Homo sapiens: one gene and its partner. The protein of the gene in region 1 interacts with the protein of each later gene in a pairwise test. Each region holds a gene or a part of one and is shown on either strand. Other genes may lie near its edges.

The links.
Region 2: the proteins of ZBTB16 (region 1) and FHL5 interact in binary tests that used the Homo sapiens proteins (3 or more experiments, as listed by UniProt).

Annotation. Positions count from the first base shown.
Region 1 is NC_000011.10:114,254,488-114,257,265, reverse strand, and holds the end of ZBTB16 (zinc finger and BTB domain-containing protein 16), read right to left. Parts: 3' UTR 501-2,778; downstream 1-500. UniProt on the Homo sapiens protein: Acts as a transcriptional repressor. Transcriptional repression may be mediated through recruitment of histone deacetylases to target promoters. May play a role in myeloid maturation and in the development and/or maintenance of other differentiated tissues.
Region 2 is NC_000006.12:96,615,128-96,619,126, forward strand, and holds the end of FHL5 (four and a half LIM domains protein 5), read left to right. Parts: intron 1-481; coding exon 482-645; 3' UTR 646-3,499; downstream 3,500-3,999. UniProt on the Homo sapiens protein: May be involved in the regulation of spermatogenesis. Stimulates CREM transcriptional activity in a phosphorylation-independent manner.

The DNA.
Region 1 (2,778 bases):
TGTCCGGTGGTAGGGGTAGCTCCAGGCGGTTTCTGCTCAGCAACCCCAGGGTCAGACAGACCCGGGTCTTGGCCCCAGGAGAACAGGGCTGAAAGGTAACCCTCCCAGTGCCACCCCTGGCAGGCCAGGCCTTGTTTGGCTCCCCAGGTGGGTGGCGGTGGCGCGTGGGGTGATGGCTCCCTGCGACTCCTGGTGATGCTGGAGGCCAGGCCTGATGCTCGGTGTGGGTTTACCCTACCGGAGTGACCCAGCACGACAATCATGGCTGTGTCCCCTGGGTCTTGAGGAGGAGAGGGGTTATTTTGGTCAGAGACAGGCAGTGAGGACGGCCTCAGGCAGAGGTGCTGAAGCACCACGTCTAGGATTGAGTGGCTTTGGTTTTACAGCTAAAGATAGGGCGATGCTTCTATCCCCGATAAGAGGAACGGGGAAAGGGCCAGAGAAGAGGGCTTGGCCCAGACACAGGGAGATGAGACAGGGAGGGAATCGTACCCATTGAGTGTTGTGGAAATCCTTTATTCCGTCCATGACAATGCAGAGCTTGCACGGCCACCTCCCACCCATCCCCTCCCCTGCACAAGGCCACCTGCTCCAATCTCCTTTCTTAACAGCTCTTGGCTGCTACAGACGCAGGCAGGGACCTTTGATTGTGTGGAAGCTTCTTGTTGAGAAATTTCTGAAGCTTGCTTAGCCACTAAGGAGTCAGTTGAAAATGTCTCTCTAAAGACTAAAGAAGACGTGAGACCCCTGCTTTGAGAACTCTGGAGTAAAGGAACCTGGCCTGGTATCAGGAGAGGTGGATGGAGTTCTGACTGCTGCTCACCAGCCGTGCAATCCTGAGCAAGTTATCCTAACACAGCCACGGATTCCGACTCAGCGGCCCGCTAGCATGGTAGCCCCAGGGCGGCCAGGGTTTGTCTGTTTGTCCTTTGCTGTAATTCCCAGCGCCGACAACAGTAACTGGTACATGGTGGTCTTGCTGAATAAGTGAACAAGTGCCTACCTAGCACATTGTACCAAGGATCATACGATATTAACGTATTTAACATTTTTTAACTAAAAAGTATTAGAAAAATGTTATTCAGTGCATCTGTGCCTTGTAAATGTGGCATAAAAGTGACACATAGATAAGTCTAAATATGTGTAATACAGAGCTTTCTTTTTCCCAGTCCCCACACAAAAATCTTAATTCCTCTACCATGTTCCCCACACAAGAAAAGGCAAAAAAAACAAAAAAAAAAAACAAAACAAAACCAAGTACTTCAATAAAAAGGTGGGACGCTTCAAGCGAGAGACAACTGAATTAACTTTATTCTCTTCTAACTGCAGATTCAAGGTATACAACTGAACATTGCTATTTTTCTTATGAGACTTATAAATAAAAATACAAAAAATGTTCACTACAAAAAAATCTACTGTTAGTAGGATGTAAAAAATATTCTCTTTGCTATAGAAGGCACAAACTTCACTTAGTGACACATGGAGAGAGAAAAAAACCTGCAGCAGTAAATTCATTTTTTCTTTTTTTTTCCTTTTTTTTTTTTTTTAAATCTTGTCAGAAACACTGAAATTACAAAGAAACGCGTCAATCTACACGAAACGAAGGCAGATGCGGAAAGCTGCAACCAGGACTGCACAACTTCGAGTGAAACTGCTTCGGAACTAGAACAGATAAGGAGCGGCAAGCACAACTCGGGGAAGTGGGCTGGGGAGGGGGCAGCAGGAGGCAGGAGAGAGGGAGAGAGAATGGAGTGGACAGAAATGAGACGGGGAGCCAGAGGGAGGAGGGGAGGGCGGGAGAGGGAGATGGAGAGGGCAAGGGTGAGAGGTGGGGAGGAGAGAAAGAGAGAAAGAGATTGATTTGTACAAAAAAGTAACCAGTAAAATTGAAGAAACAAAATTGGGCAACCTCCTAAAATTAGGCTAAGAGGAGGTGCTGAGGTAGACATTAACTAGAACATTGATGAATTAAAAACACTATTCTGTAATACAGAGCAATCCGACTGGCACTTGTGCTATCACGACATAAGACAAGCCACAAAAACAAACAAATAACAAAACGAAACATAATACCCAAACCAAAAGGCTTAGTTTTGCTTGGTCCAGCAGGGCAGCAGGGCCCTCAGTGCTATAATTTACATACATATATATATATATTTATCTTTATATATACGGGTTGGATGTCATGGTGCACCACCACGGCTTCTTAACCTTACGAAGATCATGCATAACACTATGTGAACAAATCCTATGATACACACCAGGAGGCTGGTACCCTGTCTGCGAAGTTGGATGCCAAGGGCCCGGGGAGGCCGCAGCTGCTGGCTAACCGGCCTGCAGGGCCTGCACCCCTCTTTCTCCCCACCCTTTTCCCCTGACCCAACCTCTCTGGTTTGTCCTGCACCCCTCTCCTGGCCATCTCTGCCTTTTTCCTCTCCCCATCTGTCCCACCGCGTAGGGTGAGTCTCGCCTTTCATCCTCCCACTGAAATATCCAGGTAAGTGCCACCATTACAGCCAAGCCGGCAGAGGCTCCAGGAAGGAGGAGGTATGATGGGAGGGGGAAAGATGACCACAGGATGGGCCTAGGAAAAGTGAATGAACAGAGTCTCATCTTCTGCTTTTCTGTCTCACATCCTGGTGCGCCCCCAGTTTTCACCCTAGCTCGGCTTGCCGGGAAGCAGGCCCAGAAACTACCCTGACCCTGCCAGCCGTCATGGACAGAGTCGAAAGGCTGCCCCACCTCTGCTCTCTCCCCTATAGGGAGGTAAGCTCAATG
Region 2 (3,999 bases), on another chromosome or scaffold:
ACTCATTACAACATTGGACATCAAACTAGGAAGCATACATTTATTTCCTTTTATCTTCATTTTGCAGCTAAGAAAACTTAAAGTCATATAGAGAAAAAGGGGAAATGTATTCATACTTAGATATCTCTGACTTCACAACCTATACCTTCTTTCCACTATGCTACACTGTATTGTCTTATCTGGCTTAGACAACCTTATCTGTTTCCAAAAATACCTGACTTGCATATTAGCATTCTGCCTTCTTCTGTTGATTATGGCAGAATTTGGCTGTGAATCTGGTTGGGTGGCATAGGTGTAACTTTCCTACAGTGGATAGTTCCAGATGGACACAGGGCCAGGAAGCAGCATTCTTTTTTGGGTTATTTGCCTCTGCGTTGTTTTGCTCATAGCTCTATCTCCAGTTCCTAGAGGAGCATCTGCTAGAATGCTCAATCTGTTCCTTGAAAGGATAGATTAATCTTTTTCTCCAATTCCTTTACAGGTCTCACAGGTGCCAAGTTTATCTGCTTTCAAGACAGCCAGTGGCATAGCGAATGCTTTAACTGCGGGAAATGCTCTGTCTCCTTGGTGGGTAAAGGCTTCCTGACCCAGAACAAGGAAATCTTCTGCCAAAAATGTGGCTCCGGAATGGACACTGACATCTAGGAGACAGTCCTTGCCCACCTAAAATCCATTTTGCCTTCGTTGTCACTAAAGCCAGAACTCAGTTGCGGTCTTATTTTTGACTTAAGTTTTAGAAAATATTCATGTAGTTTAGAGTGGAAAAGTTTTTGCACACATTTTGATCGAACTATATTCTAAGCACACAAAAAGCACAGTAGAACAGAAATGAATATATGCTAAATCACAAAGACAACTCTCCTTGCAAAATACTGCACTCTGCTGTTAGAAGCAGAGGAAAATATCTCTTCATAATCAAATATATGACATATACCTAGGAGCTGTGGATGTAATTACTGAAGAATGAGGTTTTTCATACCTGAAGAGTAAAAGAAAAACTAAGAGATCAAACTGAGAGGTATACATGAGGCTAGTGTTTGCATTCCTGGTTATATGTAATGTGATAAATTAGCTATGAATGGTAAAAGAACAAAACTGATCAGAGTAAATTCATTAGCAATTATCACATTTAAGAATTGTTATCATTTAAAAATCATCCTTTTTTTCACACATACTGACTGTAGAATTAAAAAACAAAGCTACAATTTGCCCTCATACACACTGCTTCCACAGCTTGCTAGTTCTGTGTTTACTCAATGGAATATGAGAACTGAGGACATTATGGCTCTCATAATCTGCATAGGTATAAAGAGGATCATTTCTACCTAGGGATAGCCAAAGCATGGGTTTCAACACGTTTTGTATTAAATATATTTTCAAAGTCCACAGTGATTTTTCTAAACGCTTACAGATTCCATGAAATAAAAGTCTATTCTTTCAAGTGGAGCTAACCAGGATAATCTTTGTCCCCAAAGGCAAACCTTTAAAATAAATAGATCATTAAATCTTCACTTGTGGAAATGAGTTTTAGGGAAGGGATTGAGTCTTGGAACATGACTTTCATCCAGATATCTAACGACATAATAGAATGCATAATTAGCTCTGTGCCTCATGCATTATTGCCTTCTAAAATTACATAAATGATTAATGGGCAGACATAAAAGTGGGCTTTAAAGAAATCTAGTAATAATAAAAGCTGAAAAAGAATAATTCACTGCTGATAATTCAGAACCTGCAAAGCAGCACAATAGAGTAATGTGGGCTGTAGGCGAGCCCTCCCCACTCTTCCCCCACACCTGTGCCACACCCCCCTTACCCCAAGCCAGTTGTGCCCCCAGTTTCAATCTCCTGCATAACCAGGAGGTGCACTCCTAACCCTAAGCAACTGTCCTATAAGTCAGTCAGTGTTTATTGATCACACAGGAAGTAAAGAGCCTTAGTGAGAAGTCCATCACCAGGTTTATCTTTATACCAGACTTTAACTGATCATGACCCTATCTTGCTACCCCTGGATATTTTCCACATTACTTGGGACAAATGGAAAGCAACCTCTGCTCTCCATGATCTGTTTTCACATTGGTTATAGCATCTCTTGGATGGAGTAGAGGGAGGTCAGGAGAAGAAGCCCACATAGATATATAACTGTCTTCTCTCAGATTACACATTATAGCATTAAAGGTTTTGATTAAAATCTAATTGTAAGATACTGCTGATTACAATTACCAAAATAGCATCACAGGAGATTCAATTAAAATTGTTATGGAAATAATTTTTGAAATAGTTTAAAATGCAAGAATATTCAGCGATGTTAATAATTTAGAGATACTAATAAGTGTTCTGCTAGATAGACTATTTGAAAACTATAAATGTATTTTTGGATTAACAATGCCAAGGTATTTTTTCATATTCACATTGAAAAATACAGGCAAAACTATCAATATTTTTTCTGCATTATATGAAATTTCACAGGTAGAACTAAATCTATGATATAGAAAATAATAGCACATTACACATAGAGAAAACCAAGCCACTTAGGTTTAGATAGATATATAACATGTAACATCTTCTCTGTTAACCAATTATAGATACATATACAACATGTAATGTTTTCTTAGTTAAACAATTGGAAATGTTTAGGCATTTTACTGTGTGGGGGCAGTGAGTATGCACATGATCAGACTTGTATTCTAGCTTTACAATTAAAATTCACAGAATCATTTCCTAAAGATTTTATTATCCTTTCATAAGTATAAATATATATACTTTTACATATAAATAGTTCTGCATTTAGAAGGTATCCTACACATCAAACATCCATTAAACATGTACTATGCCAAAAGTTAGAGCTTATACTGTTGTGGGTCTGGAGTTGTAGGAGGATGGATCATGGTATGGAAATGCAGAAGTGCCTGATGCAAAGATCCTTGCCTGCAGGTTAAACAAAGCACCACATATGTAGACATAGCACACATATGCAAAACAACTAAGAAAAAGACCTCCTTAGGTCTTTGCGTAACACACACAAAGATAAATGTAAAAATTATATAGTTGATTTATATGGTTTATGTAACAAAGAGAAAAACTCCTTAATGGACTTATCCAAAGATGAAATGGACTGACTCAGGAAACAGTGGGCTCCCAGTAATTCAAAGGTGACATCTGCATGGGCAGGAAAGAAGTTAAAAGCAAATCCCATGTGCCAATAACAACCAGATGGCTTGGAAGTAGCAGAGACTGCCGAAGAGCAGGAGAAAATAAGATTGCTAAAAGAGAAAGAGTCAGAGGAAGGGAGAATATTAACTCTTAGGATAAAAAGTGACATAACCGGCCATAGAAAGTTACCAACTGTTCATAAGTAAAGGAAGAAAATAATTATTGTAGTGTTTGAGGAAAATTATGCTTTTGATCCTTTGTGGAATAGAACCAAAGAAAGCAAGGTTCCAAGGATTAAGTTTCTTACTGAAGGAATAAGTTTGGTTAATGGCTACAAAAGTGAAAAGAAAGAGGAAGAAGGCATTGAAGGCCACGAGTTACATTTGTTGGCAAAGATGAGTATGCAAGTCAACAAGTCAAAATATTTTATTTTGTCATGTTGGGGATTAAAGATGACAAAAGAAGCAAAAATGTATTTCTGCTTCAATAATAATGACTAGGAAGCCCAAGGGTTCAATTTTAACTTGGCATTATAAAAGTGTTAAATTGGGACAAACTAGCTCCACTGGTTAAGTAAAATGTGGTTATGTTACAATCCAGGCTTCAAAGCTTACATCGTTGCTATAACTTAAAAAAAAGAAACACTAGATTGTTCATTAGAGTAAAATATTGGCCTACCATTATGAAAAATGCATAACACTAATCACAAATGGTTAAAAAAAACTGCCAAATTTAATATCACAAATGAAAAGTCAATCCAAAAACACATTTCATGTTAGCAATACCATTTTTGAATTTAAGAAAAAAATAACTTTTAATCTACTTGGCATATTGTTAATTGTCTGT